Regions from separate parts of the Homo sapiens genome. Here all the other regions are reported to be linked to region 3. Evidence: microRNA targets listed by miRTarBase, many of them from high-throughput screens and not tested one by one. Region 3 holds a microRNA gene; each other region holds the end of a gene's coding sequence.

Region 1 (3,000 bases), not on the chromosome of region 3:
TTCACTATCCCACAACCCAACTCTGCTTGTCAAAAATCCACTTTTGGAACCCAATAAAAATGAATATGCAAGTTTAACATGTTGGCTGGGCGCAGTGGCTCAAGCCTGTAATCCCATCACTTTGGGAGGCTGAGGTGGGTGGATCACTTGAGGTCAGGAGTTCCAGACCAGCCTGGCCAACATGGTGAAACCTCACCTCTACTAATAATACAAAAATTAGCTGGGTGTGGTGGCAGGCGCCTGTGATCTCAGCTACTCGGGAGGCTGAGGTGGGAGAACTGCTTGAACCCAGGAGGCAGAGGTTGCAGTGAGCTGAGATCAGGCCACTGAACTCCAGCCTAGGTGACAAGAGTCAAACTCCGTCTCAAAAAAAAAAAAAAAAAGAAAAAAAGAAAAAAGTTTTAACATGTTTATGAAGTACCCATTACATGCCTTCTTCCATGAGTTTTTCCAATTCATTCCCACTAGGATCAATCTCGTCCCCTCTACTCAATTCCCATAACACTATTATTTGTGGCATTCATCACACAGTATCTGTAGCTTTATGTATGTTTTCTCTCCTAGTAGATTCTAAGCAACTTGAGAGTAGGAATGGTGCCTCCATCTTTATTTCTGTCTCCATCTTAATATCCTATACCTAGAAGATACCAGGAAGTGTCAGCTGAATAAATGAATCTGAACCTTAATCTCAAAGGCTATGCGGCAGTAAGAAATGGAATGGACAAAAGGAAACGTGAATTTGATATGACTTAAAGTTTTAGATTAAGGAAAACTTCCCTACCTGATTATATCTGTTTAAAAGAAGAGCAAAAGTGTTTTTAACAGATGGAATCTTGCTGTGTTGCCCAGGCTGGAGTACTACAGTGGCTATTTATAGGTGCAATCCCACTACTGATCAGCACAGGAATTTTGACCTGCTCCATTTCCGACCTGGGCCAGTTCACCCCTTCTTAGGCAACCTTGTTGTTCTCCACTCCCAGGAGGTCACCATACTGATGCCAAATTTAGTGAGGACATCTGACCTGCATAGCACACTACAGTGCAGAACTCCTGGGCTCAAGCAATCCTCCTGCCTCAGCCTCCCAAGAAGCTACAGGCAGTACAGGCAAGTGCCATTGCACCCAGCTAAAAGAAAAGCAAATTTTAAATACATACCCTGCTGGGAAACTAAAGTACTAAGTGAACAACACTTACGTGCTTGGATTAGTATAATTCACAGCTATACTATTAAGAAATCTCTGCTGTGTAAATTGGAATGCGAATTCCTTTTTTTTTTTTGAGATGGAGTCTCTCTGTTGCCCAGGCTGGAATGCAGTGGCGCGATCTCCGCTCACTGCAACCTCCGCCTCCCAGGTGCAAGCGATTCTCCTGCCTCAGCCTCCCGAGTAGCTGGGATTACAGGCACCCACCCACCATGCCCAGCTAATTTTTGTATTTTTAGTAGAGACGGGGTTTCACCATGTTGGCCGAGCTGGTCTCGAACTCATGACCTCAGGTGATCCACCTGCCCCAGCCTCCCAAAGTGCTGGGATTATAGGCGTGAGCTACCACGCCCGGCCTATAATGGGAATTTCTAAAATGTTGATATTTAATTCCACAATATGAACCAAGGAAAATTTTACTAGCAGAAATTTATGTATGTAATAAATCATTAGCCTCATATGCACATTATTTGAAATATGCATGATTGGTCATTTTAGTTTTCCCAATAATAATTTATCACTTATCTTATATCCCACTAGTCACACACTAGCAGGCAAATGGTAGCAAGTCTCAAATATGTAAGAAAGGTTTAAAGAAGAAAAAGTAAAAAAACCGTCCAGAATTCTATCCATTGTGTATTTTTCTGTGACTGGAGTTGACATAATTAGTCAATCTTAGCAATAATGTATTGGGTTCACTGGGTGTTCTGAGGATGCACCATTTGAACCACCGGTAAAAGGGTACAGAATGTGTATTGAGAGTCACTTCAATGGCTTCTCAATGACACCACACCAAAGGAGGAATACCTGAAGAGAGAATGGAAACACTGCAGGCAGGATGATTTAAGAACCTGGAAATAAGGAATTTAATCTTGTTCAGCTTGAGGAGTATAACTAAAATTACTATCCTGAGTAACCTGTACTAAATCCATCACTCTGGTAGAATCAGATCAGCTGAGTTTAAATGTCAAGAAAAAATAGACACACACAAAAGTGGCTTTGATTACATAAGTCAGAGGAGGGGGAGCCTACAATAGCTCTTCCCCACATCACACCCCCAAGGCTCCTTCTTAGGGACAGCAACAGCTTTGTCAATGACACAAATGCAGGGTGGCATGAGGTTTCCAGCAGCTTAACATTTTAATTTGGGGTGGGGGTGGAAGAAAATACATAAGTTGCTTTTTGCTCCCCCATCCTAATGCCTTGGGGACCAGCCAGGCTGACCCAAATGGAATCCAGAGCGAGAGTGGGGCCTTGGGTTCCCCGAGGAGTAAAGGGGGCAGATCCAGAACAGAGCAGAAACGGTGATAATTATCTGTATGAAAAAGTAAGGATACTCTAGGTGAGAAGGACTAGCATCAATCTAGATAGCAAACTGGGAAAAAGGAAGAGGAAAAAAAGGAAGAGGTGGCAGCAGGAATAATAAAAGAGAGCCAGACACTTCAGCCTGAGAAATGTGGCTTCTTTTCAGGGTTAGTGGGAAAGATACAAAGAGGCAGATTAGCATCAAGGATCAGGGATCCACAGCAAACAGATGAAGCCCCAACAACTCTTTTTGGTGCTGTTTATCACTTGGCTTGCTTCTGGGACTCAGCTCAATTCTTAGGTGAATTTGGTATTTCCCATCTTGGGTAGTTCCCTGAACTTTAATATCAGGGAACCAATTAAACACACCCAGGAGGCCTGAATTTTGTCTTAATGTGTCAGGGCCCAAGTTACTGGCTCTGTGGGCCCTATTTCCTTAGTTGTATGGATTCTACCTCTAGCAGTATCCCTTCTGAGAAGACTAAATTTGAGA
Region 2 (3,000 bases), not on the chromosome of region 3:
TTCCGTGCCATGACAGCTGCACATGCCACATTGGGTGTCCTGGGTCCTCTGTGACAAGAACCTTACTGAGGTCTCTGTGTGGTCTGAGATTAGCACCAGCAGCATTGGACCGTTGCCTTCTTTCTTCCTCCAACAGAAATGCCTCCACGGCTGTGTACGCCTGTTGCAACCCCATCCAGGAGACATATTTCCAGCAGCTGGCACCTGCAGCACGGAGCTCCGGCTTCCCAAACCCTCAGGATGGCGCCTTCAGCCTCTCCGGCAAAGCAAAGCAGAAGCTGCTGAAGCACGGGGTGAACTTGCTCTGAACTGCACCCAGGAGGTGACTGGGAAGGAGAAAACCAGCAAAGGAAGCTCTGCCTTTTATAATTGAAAAGGCCCCTCTATTTTATTTTTCTTGAAAACATTCCCTTTTTTAGGAACCAAATGATATTTGAGTTTTTGTTATTCCTTTTGCAGATTGGGATGTGTTTTGGGGGCAGGGGTTAGTTCTTCAGGTCGGCAGACCCAGAGCACTTGATAAAGAACTGTATTTAATCGGTAGTGTTGGGGCCGGGACGGGCTTGGCTCCCTCTCTGCCATACTGAGCCTGAGGTATTTCATATCTCCTGCTGTTCCATCCCAGCTTGAATTGGTGCCACAAGCTTCCAAGTTGGCATTTTTTCTAGAACCTGATCGTCCACTAGCCCAGAGTGTGTGTGTTCAACCCCCACACCAGGTGGTGGTAGGCGGTGTGACTGCACAGCGAGGTGCCGGATCTGTGAGCAGGCCGACTCCACTCCCACGCCGCAGGTAGGTTTCTCCAGTGCGCTCTTGCTGGGAGGTCCGGATCGTTCCTGCAGGGAAGCGGCAGCACACGGAGACCACTTGGTTGAATTCTGTTGGAACTCTACTCAAATCTAGGGGCGTCTTCTTTGGACCCACAATGGGGGCAAGCCTTAATAATATGGAAGGGAGTTTGGGCTTTAGAGATCCCTTTATAAAAGCTCTGGGGGCTGAGCCCTGAGAATTCAGTGACAACAGGACCAACCTGCGCTGCCTTTGACTACAAGTGGGCCGTGCAGCTGGTTCCTCTCGAGCGAGTGTCCCTAAATAGGAGTTTACAAGATGTCTGGGGGTAAAAGCACTGTGCTTTTCAGTGGTGGCTGCGTGAAAGGGAGCGACACTCAGCTGTGTGTTCCTGGGCTTGTGTGGTACTTAGAACCTCAGTTCTATTACGTTATAGTCAGACATTTTTTTGACAGTATGAGACAGACTGCAGGATGAAAATATTTGTCAAAATCTTAACTGAATGTTTACTGGAAGTACTTGAGATTCCATTTGAGAGTTGTATTGTTAATAATTTCATGTCAGTGAACTGATATCTGATGTTTATGATATGGTGTCTTTTTCTTGAAACAAGCTTCCAAGGGCTAGAAATAAAATAGCCAAAAAATGCTGGAGTTCTGAGTAATTAAATGGCAGCATTTTTTTGTGACAAAGGTAAGGGTTAAGACAGTGTGTGTGTGTGTGTGTGTGTGTGTGTGTGTGTGTGTGCGCGCGCGCGCGCGCGCGTAACGTGGGCGCATCCCTCTTTTCCTTCCCTGGGTTCAGTGTGGCTGGGTAAGGACCGTCTGTTTGTAGGGCTGCCAGGCTGCAGCCTGCTGCTCCAGGGAGCACCAGCTGCAGCTGATCCAATACACCAAGCCTGTGTCTCCCTCTTCTATCACCTCTCTCCAGGATCTCTGCTGTCTCTTGGATCCCATCTGCCTAGATGGAAGAGGATCCTATCCGAAGCTAGGATAAATGTTGTCTTACTCCTCTGCTATGTTCTCCCAGAAAAAATTGATTACAAGTTCTCTGCTGTGGTTGCTGCAGCTCCAGGAAGTCCCCGCAATGTCTCACGTTGTCTTTGACCAGTGGTCCCCAGTACCAGGCCAGCGAAGACAACTTTATAATGTCATTTGTGTTGTGAAAATTCTTCCACTGACCCAAAATGGAACCGTACAAAGCCTATCCGTGTATATGGAAAAGTCTCATGCACCTGGATTAACTCAGAAAAAGTAAAGTCCTGAAACTTCACTTTGCAGGTGTGCCCCTTTCTTTCCTCCTTTGATCCTGCTTAGTTTCTGCAGTGGAGGTTCTGCTCAGAGCCCCAGGGCACTGGCAGCTGCAGCCGTCATCTCTAAAGCTTGGTAACTGTGGCCCAGAGGCTGCAGAGAAGAAACACTTAACCCGCTGTTTTCCCGTTTTTTAATATTTCAGAGGTTTCAGGGGGTCACTCAGGACACGGTTAATCCCACAGCCCCAGGCCCATCCCCTCAAAATTAGCGCCCCCAGAGTACGGGCCAAGCGACGGACAGCCAAGCAGCATGTTCTTGCTGGAATGGGCACCACAACCTCTTATGGCCATGTTTCCCAAGGGAAGGCAGTGTGCAGGACAGCCTGCCCACCCTGGACTCCTAGTTGACACCGAGTGCCACTGTCAGTGATCCAGGACCACAGATTCTAGTGACTCTTCAGGGCAGAAAAGCCTCTGTTTTGGCTTCCTCTGTGCCAGCCATCTGCCACCTGTGAACTGTAAGGATAAAGGTCGCATGAGTGATTAATAGTGGTGTGTTAGTCCGTTCTCACGGTTCTAATAAAGACATACCCGAGACTGGGTACTTTATAAAGGAAAGAGGTTTAACTGACTCACAGTTCTGCAGGGCTGGAGAGACCTTGGGAAACTTATGATCATGGCAGAAGGGGAACCAAACACATCCTTCTTCACATGGTGGCAGCAAAGAGAAGTGCAGAGTGAAAGGGGGGAAAAGCCCCTTATACAACCATCAGATCTCACGAGAACTGTCACAAGAACAGCATGGAAGTAACCACACCCATAATTCAATTACCTCCCACCAGGTCCCTCCCACGACATGTGGGGACTATGAGAACTACAAAATGAGATTTGGGTGGGAACACAGCCAAACCATATCAAGTGGCAATCAGATTCCTACTGGGAAAGGACCCCTAGAGGGG
Region 3 (3,242 bases):
TGTGTTGGTTTTATGTTTTGCTGTCTTTTGGACATCTATTTTCGCTATATACACTCTTATTCTCTCTAGAGAACTGGAAGAAAAATGCCTAATCCAGATATTTCAGTGTGTAGAAATTTCCTAGAATTGAGTTGCCGGACATCAGAATGTGATTATATTTAGGAGTTCTTAGGTGAAGTAAATCTTGTCCTTATTATTCTTTTCAGACTGAGGAGTGTTAAAGTGAACAGACGCTTTCTTGACTACTGCTAGTGTCGTCCATCACCTTTGTTTTAAAAAAGGTCTTAAGGGTATTTCCTAATATTTAAAAATCTTGACGGTATTTTAGGGTTTGTTTGGCTTTAATTTACGTCTACGTTTTTTTTTCCACTGTCAAGTAGCTATTGTTCATAAGAGCATAACATGAGTGGTCAAATAGCCTTTAATGATGCAGCAAGGATGGGGTAGATGAATTGGGCTATAGAAATATACCAATACATGGAGATTATTTCCAGAGACATCGTGTGGACTTCTATAATGTATCTTTGAGTCCGGAAGTGAAAATGTAAAATGACTTAATCTAAGACAACTAGTGGTGCTGGGTTGCTTTTGGCCTCCTGATTTTCTTGAGCTTTTTTGGGTGTGGCTTGCTCATGAGTATTTCAGTAGTCTGATTGTAACTCAGGTGCCTTGTTACTTGTGCAACATGTTTTCTTATATTGAAGGAGTGTGGGTTATCTCTTAAAACTGAATATGTTGAATAAGACCTGTATTTCTAGGACGATTTCTCTTAATTTTTAAGCAGATGTGAAGTTTTATGCTGTTAGGTTGTCTTCATCAATTAACCATTATGGAATTGGTCTCAGTTATCTCTTCTTACCAATATCAAGTGCCAAAATGTTTGAATTTGGGATACTCTAATTAATCTACTTCCTATTCCTGAATGTTATTTTGTGCCATTGAAGGCTTTTATGGGGAGTGGCCAAAGAGGAATGTTTGCCTCTTTCTAAGAAAAATGAGCCTTCTAACCACAACCCCTGCCACTCCTGAAGTAATAAGAATTTTGGTGGTTATTGTTTCTCACTTGTAATTTCATACCTTCGTGTTATATGTTTTGCTGTGTGTAAGTGTGGCCTGTGTCATGGACGTTTCTGCTTTGGGGATTTTTTGGAACTATTCTTGACTGCAAGGTGGGGAGGATTGGTGAGTTGCACAGGGCATCACCTGATCTGAGAGCAGCGTGACCTAAGAACCTGGTATTTTGATGCTTTGCTGGCTGGTGCAGTGCCTGAGGGAGTAAGAGCCCTGTTGTTGTCAGATAGTGTCTTACTCCCTCAGGCACATCTCCAGCGAGTCTCTTGCTCTCCTCCAATTTGATTGCTTTGCCTGGTGACCAGTAAGTAAGTTCTTTTGATTACCAAATATCATTAATTAGATATCAACTTTTAAACTATTTATTATTATTTGGGTTTGTAAGGAGAATTGCCCTAATATTAAACTTATTACATGTACTAAGTATTATGTACAATTGGGTATACTGGCAAATGTGTTAAAAGAGAGTGTAGGAACTGCTTTATGTAGCAGATTACTTCCTAAGTTTTACCTTATGTGAATATTCTTAAGAACTATTGTTTATTTGAAATGTTAGTCTGTGTTTTAATTTTGCATATACATGACATTTATTTGTTTAGAAATTGGACAAAACATAGGCCTTTTTGTGAACAAAGAGTTCAGAAATACCTTAGGTTCTGATTTTATTCATTTTCTTTTTTTTTTTATTTTATTCATGTTCTAAGCTGCTTGTTCACAAATAACTACAAATTTAGCTGTTCTAAGCAACACATTTATTACCTCGCAATTTCTATGGGTCAAGAGGCTGGGCACAACTTAGCTGTGTCCTCTGTAAGACTGCAGTCAAAGTGTTGGCCAGGGCTGGGTTGTTATGTAGAGACTCAACTGGGGAAAGGTCTGCCCCCAGACTTCCTTGGGTTATTGGCTGAATTTATTTCCTTGTGTCTGTTTGGTTCAGAGCAGCTTGCTTCTTCAAAGTCAGCAAAGGAAGAGAGTCTATCAAAGGTGAACTGGTGCTATGTTCTTACATAATCGTGTACATGTAATCACATACAACCCATTGCCTTTGCTGTATTTCATTGATTAGAAGCAAGTCATAGGTCCAGTTCACGTGCAAGGGGAGGGAATTATACAAAGGTTTAAACACCAGGAAGTGTAGGAATCAAGAATAGTCACATCAATTCTGTCTGCCACATGGATTATAGACTTAGATTGACAGCTGAACATGCAACTTTTTTTTAAAACTCAGTTTTTATTTACTTTTAAAAAGTTGTACTAATGCATATGGTAAGTATAGTATTAATAAACATGAATTGAGCCCCTTTTAGGGGCTGGGCATTGTAGATATTCAGGGTTTAAATGTGGGGCTTCTTTATGCACTGCTCAACTCTCCATTGAATTTGAGAGATGGATATGTGTGATCATTATACAGTGCAACAAATTCAGTAATAGAACTGTTAACAAAATGCTTCGTGAAGTATCTTTGTCTAGGCTAGTCAAAAAATGCTTCACAGAGGAGGGTACATTTGAACTGTAGTTTGAAGGATTTAGAAGTTTTATGGAGAGAGGGCACTGTAGACTAAAGAAAAATCCACAAAAGCTTGGGTTTTGATAGGGCATACTGAAAAGTTAAATATGTCTGGACTGTAGGGTGCATAGAGGAATGATGAGCACCTGAAGCTAGAAAAATAGAAAGTGGAGCCAGTTGAAGGATTTTATAGTGCTGTAGGTTTGTTTTATCTAATGAAGTTTGAAAGCAGGGGGAGTATCATGATTAGGCCATTGGGCACAATTAACATTCGTAGTTTACATGGATGGCAACCTTCTCTAGTGGTGCAGACTTCAGGCTGTATGCAGCAACCCTGATCAGGATTCAGTTCTTAAGGAGGAGAGTGTGATAGCAGGAGGATAAGTTAGGATTCTTTTAGAATATAACTGATAGAAGATGCCTACGTTGAAAAGATGGCATTGGTGAGGGAGAAGAAAAGTTAGATTTGATTGAGATTTCTAAGGTAGAACTGATAGAATTGAGAACCTGGGTACACAGTGATGTCTTTAACCAGTATTAAAGATGAAAATAACAAGTTTTAGGAAATGATAATGAGTTCCTTTTAGGCCTGTTAAATTTGAGTGGCTATAGGATTTCCATCTGGATAGAAGTATCCTTTAAGTGGCTGGAAACATGAGTCTCT

Evidence for each region. Region 3 holds the annotated microRNA hsa-miR-550a-3p (UGUCUUACUCCCUCAGGCACAU, at 1,302-1,323, shown strand). A microRNA usually pairs through its seed, bases 2 to 8, with sites in the 3' UTR of a target mRNA and lowers its output. Matches are read on the target gene's strand: a 7mer-m8 pairs with bases 2 to 8, a 7mer-A1 pairs with bases 2 to 7 and ends in A, and an 8mer does both.
Region 1: the mRNA of TPM3 is a reported target of hsa-miR-550a-3p. The part of its 3' UTR that is shown has no 7-base or 8-base seed match.
Region 2: miRTarBase lists HPS4 as a target of hsa-miR-550a-3p. Seed matches in the 3' UTR shown: 7mer-A1 at 1,491-1,497.

Annotation. Positions count from the first base shown.
Region 1 is chr1:154,165,424-154,168,423 of GRCh38, forward strand. It overlaps TPM3 (tropomyosin 3), which reads right to left. Exons shown (of 10, transcript NM_152263.4): 10 at 1-2,517. The coding sequence ends at 2,514. It also overlaps the pseudogene RN7SL431P. Among named protein-coding and RNA genes, the nearest start is that of NUP210L, 12 kb to the left of the region's middle.
Region 2 is chr22:26,450,541-26,453,540 of GRCh38, reverse strand. It overlaps HPS4 (HPS4 biogenesis of lysosomal organelles complex 3 subunit 2), which reads left to right. Exons shown (of 14, transcript NM_022081.6): 14 at 137-2,659. The coding sequence ends at 308. Among named protein-coding and RNA genes, the nearest start is that of ASPHD2, 23 kb to the right of the region's middle.
Region 3 is chr7:32,731,740-32,734,981 of GRCh38, forward strand. It overlaps MIR550A2 (microRNA 550a-2), which reads left to right and starts at 1,242; the gene lies at 1,242-1,338. It overlaps MIR550B2 (microRNA 550b-2), which reads right to left and starts at 1,338; the gene lies at 1,242-1,338.